7 linked regions of the Homo sapiens genome follow. The protein of the gene in region 1 interacts with the protein of each later gene in a biochemical or structural test. Each region holds a gene or a part of one and is shown on either strand. Other genes may lie near its edges. The genes, in order: TYRP1, PDZRN3, PDZRN4, PTPN3, MAGI1, FRMPD3 and ARHGAP21.

Region 1 (3,500 bases):
CTCATTTAAACTGTGTTTTATTTTGGTATCCAATCATCAGGGTGATTGGGAAATGTCTAGAAAACTCTCAGGCCAAAATACAATGGCCTGGTCACAAAGAGTATAAACATTTTGGCATCTGCAGACATCCTGATCCTCAATTTCAGTTCTCTGCCACAAGGTGGGATCATGCATTCAGCATACCAAACAAATACAAATTTATTCTAAGTTTTAAACTTCTACAGAGGAAATTTTCATATATTATCACTTCTCTTATTCCTATACATTGCTAAATAATCTAATGGTGAAAATATGTATCTAATTCCTGCTGATTTATTTAGAGTATTTCTTATTTAAGTTCATAAAATAATACTTGATGCATAAAATAATACATGTAGAATAAGTATGTGGTGATTATAATAAGAAAACAAATTCACATAACTCTTATTTTTATATGGAAGAACAATCAAAAGAGCCATACATGCCTGAAGAAGAAAAATAAGATGAGGTAGGGGGTGTCTAATAATTAAACCTTGTGTTACTACCACAGGCACAAATAATAATATGATCCAAGGAGGAGAACAGAAAGCTCAGGAAGAGATCTACATGTGGCAGAAACTTGACCTGTGACAGTGGTGGCATTCAGATCACTGGAGAAAGGATGCTGGGACAACTGATTAGGCGTACTCTTACTGTGTTCACTTTGGAAGAGCTGGAAAGCAGCTAGGGGGCAGACATCAGTACAATATACTCCTTTTCTGAAAACTATCCCCCATATCAGCTTTTGTTTTCTAACTTTATAACTGCAAGCATACATTTGGTTTGCTTCTTTTCTTTTTTTTCTTCCCAGGGCATTTCCAACTTTTTGCCTATTTTTCACATTTTCTTAGGAAACATTTTCTGTGAAATTCCAACACAAGACACATGACTTCTAAGTAGTGCTAAGAAAACTAAGAGGATTAGTTTATACAACTAGACATTTCCAAAATAAGAAAGTTAGCAAGATATTGACCAAACTACTCAAGAAAGGCAGTGTAAAAATGTGTAGGCACTTTCTGTTTCCCCTGGAGCAACTTCTAGAGTACCTTGAACATTCTAGGTGTTTAATGAATGCCTGGTACACTGTTACTCTATAATAAAAGTAGATTTTAGTCTGAATTCTCTAGTAGAATGAAGGGCCTTTCAGGCAACATATTTAATCTCTTTATCTAAAAAGAAATTCTGACTCCAAGCTATCATTTGGAACTTACTGTTACAAAGTGTTCCCAGGGTATCATAATCTTCCAAGGAGTCACAGACCACTCGCCATTGAGAAAAGACAGAGTTTGGGCTTATTAGAGTGGAATCAAAGTTGCTTCTGGATCCCATCAAGTCATCCGTGCAGATATCACAGACATTTTTCCCCGTTGCAAAATTCCAGTAAGGAAGGGAGAAAGAAGGCTCTTGCAACATTTCCTAGATCACAGAAACCACATTAATACTCTCTGCTTCTGTTTACAATTATTCATTTCTGTTTGGTCTACTCTCTGACAGTCTATTTCTATTAGCTCTCTTCAGACAATAAGGTACTGGTTAGTATATCAACGGTGTCTGAGGGGCCCAGAGGAGTTAAAACCTTATTTAACAAAGCTGGTAATTTATTACAAGGTGTCATTTAGGCATTAGAGGGAATGAAACTCAACTCATTATGCAGACATTTCTGAAAATGATTTAAAGGGATAAAGGGTCTTCTTTTTCTTTTTTAGGCAGATAATTACATTTATATTGGTTATACAAAAAAGTTATCAATAACAACATCCACTTCTTGGCATTTCCACCTTCTTCCATTTTCCTATCTTTAATTCAAGCATCATTAACTCTTAGTCTGGAGCCAGATCCAGCCTTAAAATATGTTTTGTGGAGTGCTAATTTTTGTTTTGCTTCTGTTTTTAAATTTAATTTGAATGACTAGGCATTTAGATTCTGGTTTGGCAACAGGCCAATGGACTCTTTCACACTGAGCACGGAAGGTGTTTTATTTAGGGAACCCTGCCTTAGAATCTAAACTTTTAAGACTCAGGCTTCTGCCTAAATTTATACTGATAAAAATGCTAAACAGAAGCAGAGTAAATCTTTCTGCCCATTGTTTTTTAGATCAGAGACCTAGTTTCCATTCAAAGCTGATCTCACATTTTTAAAAATGCTGGCCTCAAGATCACATGCTTATTTCATTCGGTTCTTTAAAACATACATTTCCTTGTTATTTCTCATTTCTTTGGTGCCTTGAGAAGTTCTATTTATGGTATGGGATTTAAATGTAGGGATTGCAATTGTTTTATCTTATCTCTCAAGCACTCAGTATATTTCTACTTTTTCACTTTAAATCCCTTCCTAGGAAGCATTTTCTTATCCTTGGGTGTTTTAGAGAGCCAAAAGCTTTCCAAGTTATCCCCAGTTATTGGTCTCCAGGGGTTTGTAGTCCTCCTTTAGAAGCCATCATTGTGGTTCACAAAAATTAGTGACAGCTTCCAAGGGATCATTAAGAATCGGTTTGTGGTTCAGCAACTGACATTTGGGAGCCAGAGCATATTCATGTGGCATTTCAACCACGAATTACATTTAAATTCTAATTTGTTGCATCCCTTGTGCTGTTGGGTCTTTAAAATGTAAGTCATAGAGGTTGAAGTTTACACAGGCAAAATTGAAGCTTTTAGATACTTTCCACCTGCCCTTTCATTTTGGTGTGCCCATGAGAAAATGACTTGAAGGCATGAAGATCTGCAGTCAATTACAAATGACAGATTTATCTATAATCTACTAAATGTCTTACTTGCAATCAGAGCTATAAAATATGACGTTCAGAGTATCAGATGAATTCATTTAATCACTCTCAAACTGCAAATGGATAGTGTACTTTCAAAAGAATATTTTATCCTGTATGTTAGTGCATTAATTCTCTCTCTTCTAACCATTTATTTTTTCTCGGAATAATGCTGGCACAGCATTCTGCAAATTAATAAATGAATCTAAACGCCTTTCCCTTCTTCAGATATTTTTAGCTTAATTTTTATATCTTAACTTGAAGGGGGAGATTCATTGCTGTTATTTCACATAGAAAACAGGTTTACTTTGTGGATTTCCTAGTTGAGATCTAACAACTTAAACTTTTATTTTAAAATTTCCATATTTTTCTCAAGGAACAGAGCAGTTGGTAAAAGAAATAAGAGTAAAGAATCTACGTAACTAGATACTTTAATATGTTTGAAGCTTATCTGCTTAGAAAATAAGCATGAAATAACTGCTTGAGTTGAGGTTCACTTTGTGCCAAATAAAAAGCCAATGTCTTTTCACTAAAAATATTGCCTGACTGATATAATTATTTTGATATTTTTCAACTTTTTTTCAAATTTTACATATTTTAGGTGTACAACATGGTGCTTTGATATAAATATACATAGTAAAGTGATTACTATAGCCAAGCAAATTAAAATATCTGTCCTCTTATATAGTGATGTGATATTTTAATAGGTTTCTTCTGTAAG
Region 2 (3,500 bases), on another chromosome or scaffold:
AGTTCAAAAGGCTGAGAATGAAACTGTTCTGCTGTTACCTAGGACCGTGTCTTTTTGAATGTTACCCACAATAATATGTTTGATATCACAAACGTACAGTATGCACTTACATGGTTGAAATGCACATACAAACATGTAGGCATAAGTGCATCTGTGTGTATATGTTTACATATAATGAGTACACACACATTCACTCTGCTAGGAGACTGGAAGCTTATGTTTCCCTAGGACAACATATGCAAAACACAGTCCACAGAACTCACGACATCTTTGGAAACGTCATTAATGCAACCTCAAGGAGCCAAGGCAGTGGGAATCATAACATACTCCATCAGCAGCTTTGAAAGGAGCTTAACAGTCCACGGTGCCAGATGCAAAGCTTCAGCCTCTGATTGTTGGCTGGGGACCCAAACCTTCACGTCCTCAAAGGTCAGCACAGCAATCAATGGGCTCTAGTCTTCCCTCCCAGGCACTTAGTTTTGAAACAACAGATCAGACATGAGTGGCCATTCAAACAAGGGCTGGCTTTCAATTTTCTGGACCCATCAGGCAAATATACTGCCTGCACTTAAAGGGCTTTTAGTACTGAGGATACTGTTGGAAGGTCTGGGCTTTCAAGCATCAACTTAACATTCCCCATTCAGTCCCGACACACGCTCTTGCTGTTGTCTGACCTTGCAGCCAGAACCTGAAGAGGCCTGACCTCTGGACTCTTCTGACATTTCTCAAGTCGCCCCCAGGGGATAAGTCATGTCATGTTAACTAGACCTAAGAGGAAATTACAGGTTTAGCTTCTAAAAGGCCCATCACTGTGACAGGTCAACATTTAAGAGTCAGAAGTAGCCTTAAAGGCTTCATCAATAATGTGAGGCAGTTTGGTCTGTAACGTCAGATAAATGGTCTGGATCATCATACTCAGTGAATCAGCCAGTTGTTCCAGAGGATGGAATGGGTCACTACAGGGTACTGTGGTTCAGAGCTGGGAGTCGGGGTCTGACTGACCTGCCTTTCCATCAGCTCAGTGGAACCTGGTGAGTCTGCAGTTCCTCATCTGTATAAAGGGACAGTCATGAGAAATGAAGGAGATAGATAATAGTTCTTTGCACATGTGCACACTGTGAGTGAATGTGAGACGGATGCCCTGTCCTCTGTCTTTATGCTACCAGCTGCTGCCAAACCTACTCTGTCAAGCCTGGGGAATTAGTCCTGGGTTCCAATGACAGCTAGCCACTAAGACCAAGGGATGAAGGGCAAGCCTTTATCCAGAACTTGACTGAACCATAGGAAACATGTGCTCACTCCAGCTACTGAGTTACTAGTAGGAATCCAACAGGTATTACCCAGTGGATTCTCCTGTAAGAGGTGAAAATGCCCTTTGAAATAATGTATCAAGTCAATGATCTGATCCGAGATGGAGCTGAGATGAGAAAACACAGGGGCGACCCTAACATCAGCTGGAGAGGCTGTGTCCTCAGATGTGCAAAGTCACACATGAAAAGCTTTTTTTTTTTTTTTTTTTTGAGACGGAGTCTCGCTCTGTTGCCCAGGCTGGAGTGCAGTGGCATGATCTCGGCTCACTGCAAGCTCCGCCTCCCGGGTTCACGCCATTCTCCTGCCTCAGCCTCCCGAGTAGCTGGGACTACAGGTGACCGCCACCACACCTGGCTAATTGTTTTTTGTATTTTTAGTAGAGACGGGGTTTCACCGTGTTAACCAGGATGGTCTCAATCTCCTGAACTTGTGATCCACCTGCCTCGGCCTCCCGAAGTGCTGGGATTACAGGTGTGAGCCACCACGCCTGGCCTTGAAAAGCTATGTTAAAAGCTATGTCGAACTGGACACCTTGGGGGCCAGCAGTCTATCACAGAAAGTGTCTTGCTCTTCATTTTTTCCTGAATATTTTACATCACCCACTAAATTAACGGTGATCGCTGGTACCATTTACTGAGTGCTTACCATATGCCCCATGAGCACTTCCCACATATTGTTTCATTTAATCCTTCAATGATAAGAGATTGATACTGTTATCTCCATTTTAATATAGGAAAAATACAGCCCCACAAAACAAAGTAAGTTACCCAAGTTCCACAACTAGAAATCACTTTGAGCATCAGGTTTGTCTGACTTGAAGCCTCTGAAGGACTCTTTATCGCTGGCAGAAATAAGTTGAGAGAAGAGGTGTGTGTAAAGAAATCCATGTGGCGTGCTGAGTTGCAGCTGTTATTTAATTGGTTGATGCAGTACTTAGATGAGGCATGTGCGGGCTTATTACATGGATCCAGGCTTGAAATGAGACCCAAGAAAGCAGAAGGCACAACCTCCAGGGCTCTCTTGACACACACAACTTACTTTTTTGTCTATTTAAAAGAATGATCAACATTCCCTAGTAATAACTGCAGGATCTTCAAATTACCATTTGGGGTGATTACATTTTATTCTGAAACAACTTTTACAACATTTGTAAGTAATTCTGTTCTTAGGATATAATTTGAATAAGTCCGCTCCAGGGTTATAATAAAGTAATTAATATGTCGGAGCGGTTTTGAGCAGGATTCGATTTATTGCCTCTATAAACAATAAAGTTAAACATGGGCAACTTGGAGGAAAACTATAGGGTGCATTAATTTTTTTCACCACATAGAAGAGAAAGAAACCAACTTGGAAATACTTCTTAATGCATTAGGGGTTCAAGATTAGGTTACTTACTCCTCTGGCAAGAGATAGGGATCCAGCACGGGTGGGCTGGGAGAGGACATCTTAGTGAGGGCCATGATATGTTCAAAGGTGATGTCGGTTTGGGTTCCCGTGTCCACCAGCTGAGACTCTGATGGAGGCGTGAACATTTTGGTCCTTGGTGTTCTTCTCAACACCTGCACCACTATGGGCTCCTTGGCTGTCTTGAAAGCTTCCACAGCCTGGTCATGAGTTGCTCTGGATAAGTCTCTGCCGTTGACCTGTGGAAAAATATTTAGGGTGGGACAAGGTTAGAATAAAGCAGAAAACGGAAGGACAAATACATGAATTGCCTGCTTTCATGTGTAAGCAGCTAAAAGAAAGAAGCAGGTGGTGGTGTCAGAGAACTTCAGTTCTCTGTGTTTAGGTTTCCCGAAGAATGCCTGGTGGAAAGAGAGTGAGTTTGGAGGTATTCAGATCTGGCATGCAATAATAAATCTCACAGCGGGAAGGCTTAGCTTCCCCGTGGAATGTCTTTAACACAATTTCATCACTTGCTAATCTTGCCTGTGAAAGAAAAGGCCAGCCTCAGGCTCCGAGCCTTTATCAGGCAATAATAGCTAACTAGAAATTCATTACATTGTTATGTTTTAATAGTGTGTATTTTTCCAGTTTGTGTCAGATGATACCAGTCTTCCCTTCATGGAAGTAATATGAAGTTTCCTCTTAATAATCCTTTCGCTCTTTAAAAAGTCCATTGAAAATATTAAGTAAATGACAGTTCAGGCCATAGCGGCATATGGCAAGTTATTATGGAGAAGGAATTC
Region 3 (3,500 bases), on another chromosome or scaffold:
GAAGAAAGTGTAAACAAAGAGCCATGAATGATTATCCACCCTTTCCCACTCTGGAGTTATGGTTGCATTGCCTGCTATCAGTATCATAGAAATAAGAGAGGAGACTGGGCACTATGGCTCACGCCTGTAATCCCAGCATTTCAGGAGGTCAAGGTGGACAGGTCGCTTGAGCCCAGGAGTTCAAGACCAGCCTGGGCAGCATGGTGAAACCCCATCTCTACAGAAAATTTTTAAAAAATTAGCCAGGTGAGGTGGGGTGCACCTGTAGTCCCAGCTACTTGGGAGGCTTAGGCTGGAGGATACCTTGAGTCCCAGAGGTAGAGGCTGCAGTGAGCTGTGATCATGCCACTGCATTCCAGCCTAGGTGACAGAGCAAGATCCTGTCTCCAAAAAAAAAAACCCAGAAAAAACAAGGAAAAGAAGAAGAAGAAGAAAGAAAGAAAGAATAGAGGAATCGATGCTAAAAGCAACAGTGAACTTTGTTTCTCAACTCCCTCCCACATACCACTTAGGCATCCTAACATGATGATAACTACAGCAATGGTCATGCCTTCTTCCAGAATTGTGCCCAACCTTCGATAGGATCAGGGATTTTCTGTGATTCCTTTGATTCTTGAAAGAATGAAAAACAGCATGCTTTTATTCAGCTGTATACTGTGGTGAATTCTTGGTGTATGTGAATTTCTGTGATGTTTCAAAATGCCTTCAACAATATCTTCTGCCTTTTCAGTCTCCAGTGATATTTTGACACCTAGTGTAACTCAACTATCACAACTGATTTTTTAAAATTTACAAGCATAAATAGTTTAACAAATATGGATGTGGAAATAGCTAGAAACTGGTTAACATAGTTGCTTGTGGAGACTGACTCCAAAAATTAACTTGCCTTATATTATGTGAAAAATATGACATAGGTTTACCTAATGACAGTAATTTTTTATTCTTTTATTATTCTTGAATTTTATCAATAGAATGCAAATATTAAAAAATAATACGTGTTACTAGCCTTTGTTGAACTGTGGCAAAACTATTATAACTAATATATTATTTATTAGAGTTTATAAAATCTTTTTAACCACCAACAGAACAAAACCTTTAACATGTCTACTTCCTCTTCAAGTGAATAACTTTGGAAAATTTTATTATTTTTTAAAAACAATTCATAAACTTGTATGTGTGCATCAAGCAATTAGCTACAGAAAATATTTTTGAGCATATCTTGACTATATATAAACCATAGAATCTCTTATTGTTTTTATTTTTTATTTCAGTTATATATCAGTAAATTCAAAGCATTTAGTAATGTGTCAGATTGTGCATAAGTCATACGGATAATTTTATAATATATGAACTAGTTTGTACCCTTTACACTGTTAACAAACTTACTTGTTGCACCAGGTTTAAATCAGCATGACCATTTGAAATTCAAAAATTGAGCCATTAAATTTGTTCAATGAACAAATCTTTGATCACAAAACAGAAAATAAATTATTATCTTTACTTTAAAAATCTGTTTTAAAATATGCATCTGCACATTTTAAATTGATAGATTTCTTCTCAATTTCCAATTAGCTAAAAACTGCTTAAAGTTGATTGATATCATAATGACAGAGAAACTAAAATAATGATAAGCATCAAATATTTCTAACTTTAATGATTACATAGGGATCTTTTACAACACACACCATATGCACAAGAAAAAACACACTTCTTGTTTAACTAGATATTAAAGTCACACAAATATCTATTCACTCAAAAAGCCGATAGCATCACTGAACAACTAAGCAAGAGCAATTTATTTCTAATAATCTTCTTTCTAAAATATTTCATGCTATTTAACACACAACATTCTAGAAATATGCACCTCATCTAACCCATTTCTTAACTGCAAATGTGGTCACATTGATCCATTCTACAACTATAGCATATATACATAAAATCAATGTACCCTGGTATAAAAGACACATTGAAAAATCTATATCATTGAGACAAATTTCAAGCTCTAGTCATTAACTGCTAATATATGCAAATGAAAGTGAATAATAATACCGCAGCTAGTTAAATTTCATTTGAATTTCTGTGGTTGACCTCCTTACTTTTTATCTTACAGGGTTTAAATAAGGTTAATCTGACATATATTAGTAACAGTACTATGTAGGTGTCTAGATGCACTTGATTTTCAACCATAGTTTTATAAAATTACCTCTTTAAAAAAAACAGTAGGTTTGTAACCAAATTGTTGTATGACAATATAAAAAATTCTTTTTCTTTTCTAATGTAACATTAATGAAGCATACATAATATTGTCATCTAGCTAGAATAAGTTATTTTTTAAATTGCCAATACGTATTTCTGTTGTGTCTATGTGTTTGTGTGGGTGTAACAATATATGTATTCAGTTCCATCAGTTCTTCTAATAATATCAAATGTAGGAATTTATTTTCCATTGGTAACTGGACAACTTAATATGTTTTTGAGATAATGCAGAAAGTAATAGGGACAATCTTCTGTTTAAAGTATGTTGCCCTTTAGATCATACTGTGCACATTCTAACTTTAGAAGCTACAGCATGTGAATGTTTCCACTAGACAAATTGTCAAGATGAACTGGATAGCAACAGCAAAAGTAGGTCTGCACTTTCTCGGCAACAAAACTGGAAGAATAAAAATCTTGATACAAGAGACCTCTTTAGATATAAATCAAAGTTTTTTTTTTGGCAAAAGATAACTCTTCTTTTTTTTCTAAATTTTGTAGTCGGCTAATTTATAAATGTTGTGTTCTTTTTTCCCAAAACAGCAAACTATTGGGTCTTCTATATTCTTCACTCTTACTCTATGTCGATTCATTAAAAATTCAACTTTGTTTAGTGCACAGAGGATGAATGAAAAGCTAAAACTTTATTTAAAATTTAATATAGAAAATCTGCCTCCATTCTGATAGTTTATATAAGTATTCAGAGAGATAGCACTAGTGATTATATAGCCTAGAGTGAACAGAATTTTTAAAAACAATAGTGGAGTCAAGTAAACCTTCCAAATTCCTATTTATAGCTTCACTAATCCATTGGAAATAAACTCACTGATAAAAGTAACTTAACCATTTTTGGCAACAAAAAGTAATATTATCTTAACCAGTTAATAAAATGTCAAAAGGACAGAGATGGCAGATGGCAGGGACATAAAATTTCATTAACATAACCCAATTTTACTAGCATATAGGTGCTCACTTTATCACCCCCGAATACAACAATACAGTTAAAACATACAAAGAGTTCTCACCAGGTTTTCACAACAAAGAGAAAAAAAGGTATTTCTCTTTTTCTTTCATATAAAAGATAATGACAGGAACAAGGTAGCCATATTACACCAAGAAATATTAAAAGTATTGTATAATTTATTCCAAACTCTACATATAAAATATTAATTACAAATTTAAAATATAATCATAGTTCCTCATCAGAAATGTTCCTCAACAGAGATTTATCATCCTTTTTTGAAATG
Region 4 (3,500 bases), about 97 Mb from region 1:
CATCTCCTCTGTCTGCCTGTCTCCCAGTTTCTCTTAGGCTTAGCAGATCCTGGATCAGGTATTTACAGCCACGCACTCTTACTCCAGTGTGGAGCTGGGGGCAATGATTCCCTGCTAGGTTTCCCCTCTGGCCCCTAGCCTTTTTGGAGGTATTCACAAAAATGGTGTGATGTCTTTGAGGACCATTATAATAAGATAATGATAATTCCACCTGACTCTTTTAAAAGCTTACTACGTACTTGTACATTATTATTTCATTTGCGGTAGTTTTTATCATCTTTTTAGATATGGGGAAACTGAGGCTACAGAGGTAAAGAAACTTGTTAATTAACAGAAGGGCCAAAACCTGAGTTTAGGTCTTTCTGCTACAAACCCAGTGCCCTTCTCACTTTACCAAACGACCACCTATTTCTTTTTAAGCTGAGTCCATCCTCTTAAGTTGGCCTGCTACTTACTGATGTGCATTTGCTTCTGCTGCTGAAGGTCATACATCCTTACATCATTTACATCACGTACCTGCGTTAGTTTTCCCTAAAGTTTATTTTGTGGGATATTAATGGAAAACATGAATTAAGTAAAGCTAACCGTACTTTTTTATTATTGGACGTCTCAGAGTGTTTAATATGCTAATGTGTGCTGTGATTCCAAAGGAGGCCTTTCAGCAGGCTCGAGTTTCCCAAACTATTTAGATTGAATAAGTTTTTTTAAAAAGAGCATCTCAGCATTATACACGATGGAAAACATTTAGCTAGACTTGTGTACTTCATGAAAACAGTTACTTCTGCCAAGAGCCTAAAATGCAAATTGTAGGTCATCTATCTTTAGGAGTTTATAAGTTGAGTTTTTATTTTTAAAAGAGATAAAGTGTCTACTGTTGGGTAGTACAAAAAAAAAAAAAAGGAGGACATACCAGTTGGGAGTAATGGGAGGGGAACGAGAAGGCAGACTCTTGGTTTCTAAGTGCTCCACTGATAAGGATCTCCGCATGGCTGGGTTCCACACCATCCCGCCAATCACCTTTTTGCAATATTGGTTATTTACCGACCTGAAAAACCAGATGCAGGTTCACTTTCTACACTGACGTTCAACAGGAAAGAAATTACTGCATGTGTGAAACAGTCTACACATGCTTCTTGTCTGAAGGACGGCAGGTTAATGCCAAGGTTATGGGGAGTAGAGGGAGACAGCTCAAAAGCGATTCCTGTCTGTCCTGGAATTTCCTTATGTGATTTCTTCTCTTCGGGTGAAAATCCTTTCTTGTCCTCACTACTCAAGCAACAAAGCTGTTTCCAGAATATAACCAAACCTAACCAGATTAGAAGGAATTCCAGGATCACACAGAAATACAGCTCCAGTGATTTCAAGGAATTCTTATTTTATTCACACTGGCCTAAGTAAAAATATTAACCATTTTTTCAGGTGCTCTTCATCATCCTAGCTGGCAGGAGCTGTCACTATAAATCACTGGTAAATCTTTGAGAGAGAATCTGAAAATGCGCTTAGAAAGTAGTTTCAAACTGGGCACAGTGGCTCATGCCTGCAATCCCAGCATTTTGGGAGGCTGAGGCGGGTGGATCACTTGAGGTCAGGAGTTCAAGACCAGCCTGGCCAACATGGCAAAACCCTACCTCTACTAAAAATACAAAAAATTAGCCAGGTATAGTGGCGCATGCCTATAATTCCAGCTACTTGGGAGGCTGAGGCATGAGAACCCCCTGAATCCCCGAGACAGAGGTTGCAGCGAGCCAAGATCGCACCACTGCACTCCAGTCTGGGGAACACAGTAAGACTCTGTCTCCAAAAACAAAAAATTATACAGAGTTTCAGGCTACGTTCTTTGAAATGTGCTACCCTGAAGGTTACTTTTGAATTTTATTTATACCTAGAGAATTTAAATCTTAGCTATCTAGACCCCTCAGAGAATGAATTATTTGAGAGAATAGAGCATGAAGCCTGTCACCCTGTTAAAGGGTGACAACTTTGGTTCTGGCATCTCTAAATTTTAAACTAGGATTTAATGTCTTATGAAAACATTCTACACATTTCCTTGTGACATGACATCAACCAACCAACAAAAACAAAACAGAACAAAGAACAAACAAAAGAACATAAACAATATGAATCGCCCTGTAGCACATCATGTACTAATTCACATTAAGAAATGCTGTTGTCACCCTGATCAAAATGCTCACAACAGCATCACTGGGAGACTCTTTCCTCTGAGGCAGGCCTACATCAGAAACCACACTGCCAGTGATGAAGAGCACAGGATCAAAACAAGGGGAGCAAACTGCCCAACTCCAAGGTTTAATGTGTCATGGGTTATTAATAGGGACTCTCTGAAAAAAAAGTGTTCCATTGTCCCATAAGCTTGGAAAATAACCCAACAAATTTCTTTTTATGTGGAACCTTTCAGAAGGCCCAATAAGCAGATGTGTATCTGTATCTCTAGGGGCTGGGCAAGTCATGTGACCCTTCTAAGCCTCAGTGTCCTCATCTGTAAAATGGAGGTAATGAGACTTGAAATTCACCAGTATGCTGAAGCTGGCACAGGTAGTAAAAGAACTGCTGACTTGTCCTCCCAAGCCATCCTCCCAACCCAAATGATCCCCTGTGGCAGATTAAAGATGACTGCAAGTTCTTTGAGTCTTGCATCTGGGTTGGCTTGTGACTGCTTTCAGCAACAGAGTCGCTGTGCCAGTGCCAGGTCTCACCCTTAAGAAGGCTGAACGGTTCTGCCTTTCGCTCCTGGAACCCTGAGTGTCCATGTAAGAAATTCAACCACCCTCCTGGAGTATCCAGATGGGGATGCTAAGGAGTCCAGGTGAGTCCAGCCTTCCAACCATTCCATCAAGACACCAGGTATGCAAGAGAAGTTATCTTGGATCCTCTGGCCACATTCACTGAGAAATCCCTATCTACACCACACAGAGCAGAAGAGGCCTCTGGCCAAGCCCTTCTAGGATTCCTGACTCACAAAGTCATGAGATATAACAGAATGGGTGTTGCTTTCAGTCACCAAAATAGGGGTATTTTCTTGTGCCACAATACAAGACCAGAACCCAGCCCTGCTGGCATTGGATGCATGCAGATGACAAAGCTTTGCAGATGAAGAAATAGAAGCAACAAATTAAAGCTCAAGTGACAGAGGCAGGATTTGAACCCAGGCAGCTCAGCAACAGAGGGCATGGTTTCAGTTGCCTCCCCATTCCTTCTCTCATCTGGCCTGAGGATCAGGCCCAACCTAAGTCAATGATATAATCCAGTAAGTTATTTTCATGGCTTGCTCAACAGTAGATCTACTGAATGTATACAAATACTAAACAGTATTATAAGAGCTAAAAACTTAATATATTCACTCTTGGTTCATCAGAAGCTGAGAGATAGCATTTAGCACCACAAATAGTATCACTGATACTAACAGAAATTAGCTACTTATTCAGTTTACAAGTTCCCTAATGATTATCAATGTATTAGGAAAGTAACTGGAACAGTCTGAT
Region 5 (3,500 bases), on another chromosome or scaffold:
TCTCCCAAGGGCTTTCAAATGGGGAGCATTCAAACAATTACAGAAGCCAACATTTATTGAGCACTCACTATGTGCCAAGCCCTGTGTCATGTGGTTTACTTTCTACTTTTCCAACAACCCTAGAGAGTAGGTATCATTATTATCCCCATTTTCCGAGGGGGAAACCTGGCACAAAGAGGTTCAGCATCTTGCCCCAGAACACCCAGCTCATAAAGTGTAAAGCCTGCCTCTTCACCCAAGCCAACCTTGGGTCCAAAATCTGACTCTATGACACATCAGTAAATTGCTATTTGTGGATCATTTTATGAGCAGTACTACGGTCCTGATGACACTATATATAGCAGTAATTTTGAAACATGGCTTATAATCAGGGCACGATCGCCTTTTAATTGCACCATCATGCCCCTGTCCATAAAGAGAGCCTCGAGTCTTGTCTCATAAAGGAGTAAAGATTATCCTTATTGTAAGAAGCATAACTGTGGCCCATTAAACAGACACACAAATGCCTCCATCCACAGTAATGGTGGGGTTGATACCTTAGCCATGAGAATGTAATTATCTTATGGAACTCATCTTCATGACACTGGAGATGGTAACAGAAAAAGTCTATACACACAGCCAGAAGAACCTCTCAGTCTGTTTAGGGGTGAGAGAGTCTGCAAAGTTCCATGACACACTCAGCATGGGGCTGCCTTAGACACACAGTGGTGACTTGCTCTTTAAAGCATCTCCATTGGCCTTCTTGACTCACTGGTCTCACCTCTTCCTTGCCCTACTGGAACTTCCTGGGAGCACCTCCCAGATAAGCCCTGTGCATTCAAATCCTGACCTAGAGTTGCCTTCTAGGGATTCATGTTGGTGGGGAGCACACAGGACTGAAAGTGGACTGAGGCCAATGACTTGGCTAAGTAAGGGATGCTGTGCACAGACCTATCCCTAACTCGACAAGATCTTCATGGTGACTCTAGTAGCCTCAGCTCTCCTGTTTGGATCAGCCACCTGGTACCCCTTGTTACCGTCATTTCCCAAATCAAAGTAACCTCTGAAAATCAGGACACTCAATTAATTTTAAAGTCAAGGACCTCTTCCATGCAGGGAAACCTAAAATTGGAAATGTGACCTTATCTCTGACTCCAAGGAGACTCCAGTGGACTCTTCCCTCCCCTTCTTGACAAGAAACCAAGGACCCACATGTTCTTACTTGTAAACCCATAATACTAAGACCAACTGAAGCAGGCCAGCAATGTTCACTGACTTTAAGAATATTCCTGGATCAATCGGCTAAGCTCTATTTTAGCCCCAGCCATTGACTGTAAATGTTAAACTCTAACCAACTTTAATGTGATCCATCATCAGTCACCTAAATTTTCAGGGACTTCTATATATCTACATTTTCAGAGGTAACTGACCTCAGAAGAGATTTATTCTAGTTCTAAACTTGACTGTAAACATTTAACAAATACCCAAGCAAGTACTAGGCACCATGCACTGTTTTTGCTACTGGGGATACTGTGGGAGAACAAGACAACATTCCTGCCATCTCAGAGCTTACATTCTAGAGAAAGAGGTAAAATAAGAAATTTACTTGTGGTGAAGCGATCTACATACTATGGAGTAAAATAAAGCTGAGAGGGGGAACAGGGAATGACACGTGGCAGTGGAGTTATGGTTTTCAATAATGTGCTCACAAGAGGCCTCACTGGGCAGGTGACATTTCAGAAAGACTTGAAGCTCAAGAGATAGCAAGCCTGTAAGATGATCAGGTGGGCACTAGCAGGCAGGACAGAGAAAGAGAAGTAATATCCTTAGGACAGGTCACGGGCAGCCTTGGAAGTCACTATAAGGACTTCGGCTTTCACTCAGATACAGAGACTACAGAAATGATTAATAATGGATTATTCCATTATGTAATTACTGAGCCATAAAAAGAGAAGATTTCTATTTAATCATAAAAGACACTGCTCAAATTACATTTTCTAATTTTGCTACATGCCTTCGGAAAAGTTGACATCCAGAACACATTAGACCCTCCACAGGACACTTAACTAGAAAGCAGAGTCAATATGATAGGACCAACCTTGACATCTGTTGAAACAACAAAATGAATTCATAAGAAATACTACATCGATGCCGACCTCCATAGGGGAGAAGTCTAGCAATGCACCAGTGTGTACTAGGGATTTTTCAAGGTTACAGATCTCACATATGAGCTGCAAAAAGACAGGCAGGCATGCAGTAACCTACTTTTTTAGGATGTGAATGTCAGCCCTTAACGAATTTGACAGCCTTTATTCTCAGTGTATACAAAATCAGTATATCCTGTTACTTGTATATACAAACTCAAGGAAAGGGCCACTAACACCAGAGAGTGGTGCTTTGCATTAAATAACCCTCGTTTACAAAGCAACATCCTTCATGTAAACCCTTGTGGTAAGGAGATGTCAGAATGTTTTCTCTTATAAACCACTTAATTCCCCTTGGTGGATATCATCAATTCTGCCATCTAAAACCAGCTGGGTAATGAATGCCAAGAAACACGGTGAGCCAACTGTATGCCATTGCCACAGAAGGTCAAGTTAATCTATTTTTAAATAACACAGCCAATGACAAGGGGTGGCCACTGGAAACGATGGACAAGTGCGTTGTACGTCCTTGCTTCATTTTTTGTAAAACCTGTACAGTGTTCCACAGTGTAACCTAAAAATATCCTTCCAAGAGTGGTCTTTTGGCACCAAGAACAAAAACAGGTTGATTTTTGAAAGTTTAAGTTAAAAAAAAAAAGACATAAATACAAAGTACAATTTAAGAGCGAGAGGGCTAAAATTGGATTGTGTTCTGTAGCAAAGATCTGATTTGCTATTAGCCAAAAAAAAAAGTACACAGGGACAATGCTGCAAGAAAACGGAGGGAAAGAATCATTTTTAGGCATGAGGACACAGGTCCCACATCAACAAAAAAAATCCTCATCATCCTGCCTGCTGAACATCTGAAATTTCACGTTTAGAGGCTCACTTGTTAAACTTCAGTTAGAGTCAACAGGCAGAAATACTTGAATAGGATTCATTAATCCTTGTCAGTCATTTATAGCCCAGTATAAATTATTAGACACAGAAAGCCTGCTAATTGGAAGATCTGATTACGAGAAAGTGAAGACCTCTGGATCCTAAACAAGAAGTAAAAGACAAATCGAGAGAAAGGGAGGAAAGATGTTGCAAGTGGCCTAGTTGCACTTACCTTCCGAAACAATGGAATAGTCATTCAGGCATCCAACCAATTTTAGTGAGCACCTATTATTTGCTGGGTCTTTTTTTTGAGATGAGTCTCACTCTGTCACCCAGGCTGGAGTGCAGTGGCGCGATCTCAGCTCACTGCAACCTCAGCCTCCCGGGTTCAAGCAATTCTCTGCCTCAGCCTCCCTAGTGGCTGGGATTACAGGCGCCCACCACCACGCCCGGCTAATTTTTTTGTTTTTTTTTTTTTTTTAGTAGAGACAGGGTTTC
Region 6 (3,500 bases), on another chromosome or scaffold:
CCATCAAAGTTTCGTGTGTGTGTGTGTGTGTGTGTGTGTGTGTTTTTTTTTGCATATGGATATCCAATTGTTATAGCACCTTTTGTTGAGAAGAGTATCCTTCCTCCACTGAATTGCCTTTGTACTTTTGTTAAAAATCTGTTGTCTATATATATATATATATATATATATATATATATATATATATATAGATCTATTCCTGTACTCTCTATTCTGATCTGTTGGTCTACTTGTCTGTCGTTATGTCAACATCACACTCTTGATTACTGGAGCTTTATAATAATTCTTGAAATCAGGAAGTATTTGTTCTCCAACTTTGTTCTTTTTCAAAGTTGGTTTGGCTATTATAGGTCCTTTGCATTTTCATGTGAATTTTAGAATCACCATGATAATTTCTACCAAAACCTGCTGTGATTTGGATTAGGATTGTGTTGAAACTATAGATCAATTTGGGGACAATTGACATCCTAACAATATTGAGCCTTCCAATCCCTGAACACAGTATTTCTACATTTAATTATACCTTCTATAATTTTCCTCAGCAGTATTTTGTAGTTTTCAGTATATAGGTCTTTCATATGTTTTGTCAGATTTGTCCCTAATTATTTCATATTTTTTGATGCTATTGTAAATGATTTTGATTTTAATTCCAATTTTCAATTATTTCTTGCTAGCATATACAAATAGAGTTGGGGTTGGGCATGTTGGCTCACGTCTGTAATTGCAGCACTTTGGGAGACTGAAGCAGGAAGATCACTTGAGCTCAGGAGTTCAAGACCAGCCTGGGCAACATAGTGAGACCCCCATCTCTATACAAAAAGATTTATTTTTAAAAGAATAGAAATACAATTGATTTTTGTGTATTGATCTTATATCCTGAAACCTTGGTAAACTCACTACATTTGGCCCTTCATATCTACAGGTTCCATATTTGTGGATTTTGAAAATATTCAAAAACAATAAAAAATAACAGTGCAATAATAAAAAATACAAAATTTAAAAATATAATATAATAACTATTTGCATAGCATTTTTATTTTAGTTTAGTTTGAGACAGAGTCTCGCTCTGTCACCCAGGCTAGAGTGCAGTGCCATGATCTCGGCTCACTGCAACCTCCACCTCCCAGGTTCAAACAATTCTCCTGCCTCAGCTTCCCAAGTAGCTGGGACTATAGACATGCACCACCACGCCCAGCTAATTTTTGTATTTCTTAATAGAGACAGGGTTTCACCATGTTGGCCAGGCTGGTCTCAAACTCCTGACCTCAAGTGATTCACCTGCCTCAACCTCCCAAAGTGCTGTGACTTTAGGCATGAGCCACAGCATCTGGCCTACATAGCACTATAGCAATTTTTTTTTTTTTTTGAGATGGAGTTTCGCTCTCGGCTCATTGGAACCTCCACCTCCTGAGTTCAAGTGATTCTCCTGCCTCAGCCTCTCAAGTAGCTGGGATTACAGGCGCCCGCCACCATGCCCAGCTAATTTTTGTATTTTTAGTAGAGACGGGGTTTCACCATGTTGTCCAGGCTGGTCTTGAACTCCTGATCTCAGGTAATCCACCAGTCTCCGCCTCCCAAAGTGCTGTGATTACAGGCATGAGCCATTGCACCTGGCCTTATATAGCATTTTAATTGTATTAGGCATTATAAGTAATCTAGAGGTGATAGAGGTATACAGGAGGATTTGCATAGGTTACATGCAAATACCACAGCATTTTATATAAAGGACTTAAGCATCCACAAATTTCAGTATCCATGGGGGTCCTGGAAGAAATCCTCCATGGATACCAAGGGAAAACTGTAGTTGTAGTAGTTTTTTGTAATAGAATCCACTGAATTTTCTACATAGATGATCATTGATGATGTATTCCTTTTCCACTCTCTCCTATATTATAGTGATATCACTGTGGCTTCCTAGTCCCTTAGTCCATACTGGTTCCACTTTAACAAAATGGGAAACTGGTCTAACCAAGGCTGACTCATTGATAGCTGGGGCTGTGACCCTCAGGGTTTGGGGGTTGTCATACCCTTGGCCAGTAGTTCCTGGAGACCTCCTCTAGGATAGCATAGGGAAGATTGACTCATCAACATTTTTGTCCTTCAGACACCAAGAAGAAGAATGCCTCCCCCATCCCTGCAATTCAGCTCTCACCCTGGGCTTCTGGGCCAGGGCCCTGTGGAGAGTCCCTCCCAGTATCTTTCTCCCCTTGTTTCCATCTGAGCTAGTAAAGGAGCCTTGTATGGCTTGGGGGTGAGTATAACCCCCATGAAAAAAAGTAGGAAAGTCTCTTATAAAAGGAGGAAAGAAAGGGAGTGGTGCCATGTCTCACTTTTGCAGTGAACTGGACTGTCTGCTTGTACCTTGCCATTGTGTGCCCCTGTCACTGAGAAGGCTATCTAGTATCTGCTGAATAAAGTGAACAGTGTCTATGAGACCTGAGCCTCCTCTGTTGTCTCTTCTCCAAGGGGAGCTCCTTCCTCTGTCCCTTGATCTAGCATGCCTTACTGATACTATGAGTATTGTCTGGGATGTAAGGGAGTAGATCAGGGGGTGGGGAAGGAATGTCTCCTTCAGCTGATAGGTTTGGACTGCCCTCTCTCACAGAGTCGGAATGATGTTATTCGAGAACGCTTTGGAATGGATCCCAAGCCAGAGATGCTTTTGGGCCTTGCTGCGCTCCACATCTATATCACTGTCTCAGCCACTCGACCTAGTCAGAAGATCTCGCTCAAGAATGTGGAGTGAGTTGTGCTGCGGCCCGTTGGGATGGGGGGCGAATAGTTGCGTAGGGAAAAGGTACACTGGTTGAGCTATGCTATGCTTTTCAGAAATGTAGGACATGGGATGGGAGTGAGAATTGGAGTCCCTCATATCTAGACTATGAAGCCCTAGAGCTACAGCTTCTACTAGGGAGCTGTGGCTAATGTTATTTTCCTATCCCTGTCCCTTTTTCTTTCTCCCAGTCTCTATTCCTCCATCTCTACCTCTCAGATTCAGTCAATTTCTGTCTTACCATCTTCTCTCTGTCCCACTTTGCCTCTCTCACTAATCTCTTACTTTTCTTCTGCTTTTAGGAAGGAGTGGGGCCTGGAACCCTTTCTTCCCCCCTCCCTCCTGCAGGTCATCAAAGAGAAGAACCTCCGGAAATCTCTCTCTCAGCAACTGAAGGCTCACCAAACACATCCTTCCTGCGGCACCAAGGTATCCAGAGTAGACCACTGGGCATGGTGCTCCAGGCACTACTGGCCACAGGGAGATCCTGGGTGGTTTCCCAGCAGAGTCTGGTCCTCTAGGGATCCTCACCACTGCTTTTGACTCAGGTGCACATACGGCTTGGCCAGGTGTGGGGCAGTTGTGGAGAGGAGTCTTCCCCAAGCCTGAGCATCCCAAAGAGACAGCTGAGTGACACATCACTGAGAGAGCTCAGGGTCCTCAAAGCAAAGGGGCCAAGATGCAGGAGATAATTCTCAGGTCCTTTTCACCAATTAGTCAGTGCCGA
Region 7 (3,500 bases), on another chromosome or scaffold:
ACTGCAATCCAAGGGGGATATAGATAAACTTGTAACTGGTATTCCTGAAAGTGCAGGGTGTTTTGAGAGAATACACTAGGGGCAACTGAAAGAGTCTTGCGGGTCAGGGAAGGCTTTCCTGAGGAAGCAGTATTGAAGAAAAGACCAGTATGATGAGTAAAAATCAGCCATGGAGCAGAGGGAGGAGGAACAGGGGACAGTAGAGGGAAGGGTAGAAGAAAGGACCTGACAGGAGTTCAATCTAGGAAGAACAAAAAGAAGTAACAAGTGAGACAGAAGCGCGGACCAAATTACCAAAGTCCTTTCAGACTTCACAGAGGTCTGAATTTTATTTCAAAGGAAATGGGAAGACAGAAAATTGTCTTATAGGAGGTAATGTAACGATCAGCTGGAGTACAGTGGCGCGATTTTGGCTACCTGCAACCTCTGCCTTCCGGGTTCAAGGATTCTCATACCTCAGCCTCCAAACAGTTGGGACTACAGGTGTGCGCCACCACGCCCAGCTAATTTTTGTATTTTTAGTAGGGACCGGGTTTCACCATGTTGCTCAGGCTGGTGTACAACTCCTGACCTCAGGTCATCTGCCCATCAGGAGGATCATTCTGATTACAGTAGGGACAGAGCTGCGGAAGGGGACAAGGCTAAGTTATTGGGAAACTCCGTAGGGAATCTGTTTCTGTGGTTCATCAGTGAGATGCAGCTGACCTGAACTCAGGTGGGGGTAGTGGGTATTGGGAATGTGGACTCCACAAGACTTTGCATATGAGGAATGACGAGACGGAAGAGTGAGAATGCTGACCTAGTTTTTGACTTGGACCAATAAATAGATGGTAGTGCTACTCAGCGAAAGAAGGTGCACAGGAAGAGGGAGAGTCAGCGGTAGCGGTGAAATCTGATGAGTTTGCAATGCCTGGGGAATATCCCCCAAAAGTGTTCGGTAAATAGGCAACTGGCTGAAAAGGTCTAGAGATCAACCATAAAGCCTGAGATAGAGGGGTAGATACGGAGTCACCAGCACACAGGAGAGTGCAAAATAAAACCCAGGGAGTGAGAAAGAGAATACAGGAATGGAAAGGCCTTGGCTCTGGATAAAACCAACAATGGGGCAAGAAGAGGAAGAAAAACCCTACAAAAGAGGCAGATAGAGAGGGAGATAGAAAGGAGGGGAGGAGAAGAGAGAGCGCCTGAGAAGGAACTAGGGAGTCTGGGATGAAAGCAAAAGCAAACTGTCCAGCATTCCAGAAGGAAGAGTCAACACATGGATTCATACAAACTCGTACCCAGAAAAATGTCTTATTGTATTGTTTACAGTATTTCAAAATCAACCAACAAGTGTATTTCATCAGCCATAATACATTTCAGTCATAGAATAATCTTAGCCTAGGTCAAGAAGCAAAACAAAAATAAGTTCATTTGCATTAGTAAAAAGTTTAATAATAAAGTGACAAAAATTCTATTACTGGACAAGAGTATGGACTACAGATAAAAAATGAAATAAATGTTAGAAATGGAAAAAAAATCATGTGGTTAAGAAAGCTGAGGGAAAGTTTTCTCTTCTTTGGCTTAAAAAAAAAGTTAAACCTTGAAAGATGAAGCTATATGGATATGAAAAGGGGTGATAATATCATAGAGGATTCAACAGAAGAATCTATATAAAGTGATTTTGTGAGCAAAGTTACTCAAGGATTGGTGTCAGAAGACTTCACGGACTACACACACACACACACACACACACACACACACCCCAAAAATCACTTAAGAGGTTCAGAGTGAGTGATTTCAAGTTTTAAAAATACACCTTGAGATGTATAAAAGTATATAAATTCGTGTGAGTACCATCTGGACCATCCTTACTGTATAATGCCAAGACATATTCTACTGAACTGTCCTAATTTCTTATTTGAAGAGGGCTGTTTATTTGTTTTGAGGCTTCCAATATATCCTGGGGGTGGGGAGGCCTAAATGTATATCATATATCAACACAATAAAATTGCAATGCTTAAGATGAACAAGAAATCTCTGATTGTTTTTCAACAAAGCACAAGGCCTTATTCAGAGAAGGTGGAGTTGGCTAATTAGATAAAGCATGAAACAGAGACTCCTGTTAATTCATTACATTGATTTCTTCTGTCCTATAAAGTTAGGTTTTCTTGGCTGATTAACAGCATTACTATTAAGACACACATGCTCATCTCTTTGTTAGTTAAAAACACAATAATAAATGTAGTATCCAAACACATTATTGATTTTTAAAATTTTTTAAAGAGTGATAGTACCACTGTGGAATGTAGTGCTTCTAATAAAATTGACGACAAAAATTAAATGCAATGTTCAAAAACCTAAATATCAGCCCAAAGTATTTCATTAGCAACTAACTCCCTATTACTAAAAAATATTCACAAGATTTAATGTGTATCAGAAGCATCAATCACAGATTAAAACACGTCACAACTAAATACAGGCAATAATTACACAAGTTCTCTTCACTCCCAACCCTGAGGTTTTAAAATGTTTTCTGACAACATATATCCCCTTTATTTCCACTTCCACATAGAATCTAGGCAAAATACCTATTCTTTAGAAAGTCAAATAATATTGTAGTTTAATACCAAACCTAAATACTGTATATATATTTCACATAAGCAAAACACAGGTGATATTGTGTTTTCTTCATTGCTAAACTTAAAAACAAGATAGCCATGCTGCCAGCAGTAAGGTCCAAATGAAAACAAATTTCACAGCCGTTAAAAAATACATAACTGTCATTGTTAATAAAAGCCAAGTGTGCAACAAACTGGAAATACTGCTTGCTAGCCAAGGACAAGATGTGTCTAAATTCTTGGTTTCAGGACATCTCTTAAATGACCAAAAAAAAAAAAAAAAATCAAATAACATTAGTTCTTGCAAACAGAATGCAAATACAATGCTAATTAAAGTATTCACAAGACAATGACAAATAAGGCTTCAGGACCACAATACATATTATTATGTAACTGCAATACACATTAAGCAATCACCAGGTTGCAGGTAGGCCTTCCAAAAGGAGTTATTATGGTTTACCGTGATCAGAGGATTGTGGTGTTCCACTTAATCATGCTTTTGCCTGCAAGCAGGTGTTTACAGATGTCAAAAAGTAAAACACTGATTCTAAATGTAAACCTACAGTTCTGCCTAATAAATTGTACAGTAATAGCACACTGTACCTCACAACGTTTTCTGCATAAACTTTCTAATTCGACATGAAGTAAGCTGCATGAAGCAAGTTTCTCCGCTTGCTTTATGAACCAAAATTTAACTTCTGATTCATTTTTATTAAAATGCCAAAACTCACACACTTAGAGCCAGCCCTTGTTTCAAGGACTATGAAGTTAAAATTTAACATCCGGTGCAAAAGAAAGTGAGACAGTGAATGAGGGTTCATTTGGGTATGTTATTGTCTAAAGTAATCCTCAACCCTTCAATGAAAACATAGGCATCTCAAAAGTAAAATTTAAAGGATA

What was found.
Region 2: the proteins of TYRP1 (region 1) and PDZRN3 interact in a test that uses a peptide from one of them, tested with the Homo sapiens proteins (one large-scale study listed by IntAct).
Region 3: the proteins of TYRP1 (region 1) and PDZRN4 interact in a test that uses a peptide from one of them, tested with the Homo sapiens proteins (one large-scale study listed by IntAct).
Region 4: the proteins of TYRP1 (region 1) and PTPN3 interact in a test that uses a peptide from one of them, tested with the Homo sapiens proteins (one large-scale study listed by IntAct).
Region 5: the proteins of TYRP1 (region 1) and MAGI1 interact in a test that uses a peptide from one of them, tested with the Homo sapiens proteins (one large-scale study listed by IntAct).
Region 6: the proteins of TYRP1 (region 1) and FRMPD3 interact in a test that uses a peptide from one of them, tested with the Homo sapiens proteins (one large-scale study listed by IntAct).
Region 7: the proteins of TYRP1 (region 1) and ARHGAP21 interact in a test that uses a peptide from one of them, tested with the Homo sapiens proteins (one large-scale study listed by IntAct).

What each region holds. Positions count from the first base shown.
Region 1 is NC_000009.12:12,696,385-12,699,884, reverse strand, and holds part of TYRP1 (5,6-dihydroxyindole-2-carboxylic acid oxidase precursor), read right to left. Parts: intron 1,435-3,500; coding exon 1,230-1,434; intron 1-1,229. UniProt on the Homo sapiens protein: Plays a role in melanin biosynthesis. Catalyzes the oxidation of 5,6-dihydroxyindole-2-carboxylic acid (DHICA) into indole-5,6-quinone-2-carboxylic acid in the presence of bound Cu(2+) ions, but not in the presence of Zn(2+).
Region 2 is NC_000003.12:73,401,442-73,404,941, forward strand, and holds part of PDZRN3 (E3 ubiquitin-protein ligase PDZRN3), read right to left. Parts: intron 2,955-3,500; coding exon 2,707-2,954; intron 1-2,706. UniProt on the Homo sapiens protein: E3 ubiquitin-protein ligase. Plays an important role in regulating the surface level of MUSK on myotubes. Mediates the ubiquitination of MUSK, promoting its endocytosis and lysosomal degradation. Might contribute to terminal myogenic differentiation.
Region 3 is NC_000012.12:41,194,820-41,198,319, reverse strand, and holds part of PDZRN4 (PDZ domain-containing RING finger protein 4), read right to left. Parts: intron 1-3,500.
Region 4 is NC_000009.12:109,421,808-109,425,307, forward strand, and holds part of PTPN3 (tyrosine-protein phosphatase non-receptor type 3), read right to left. Parts: intron 1,046-3,500; coding exon 911-1,045; intron 1-910.
Region 5 is NC_000003.12:66,028,919-66,032,418, forward strand, and holds part of MAGI1 (membrane-associated guanylate kinase, WW and PDZ domain-containing protein 1), read right to left. Parts: intron 1-3,500. UniProt on the Homo sapiens protein: Plays a role in coupling actin fibers to cell junctions in endothelial cells, via its interaction with AMOTL2 and CDH5. May regulate acid-induced ASIC3 currents by modulating its expression at the cell surface.
Region 6 is NC_000023.11:107,557,652-107,561,151, forward strand, and holds part of FRMPD3 (FERM and PDZ domain-containing protein 3), read left to right. Parts: intron 1-2,605; coding exon 2,606-2,742; intron 2,743-3,075; coding exon 3,076-3,202; intron 3,203-3,500.
Region 7 is NC_000010.11:24,717,388-24,720,887, forward strand, and holds part of ARHGAP21 (rho GTPase-activating protein 21), read right to left. Parts: intron 1-3,500. UniProt on the Homo sapiens protein: Functions as a GTPase-activating protein (GAP) for RHOA and CDC42. Downstream partner of ARF1 which may control Golgi apparatus structure and function. Also required for CTNNA1 recruitment to adherens junctions.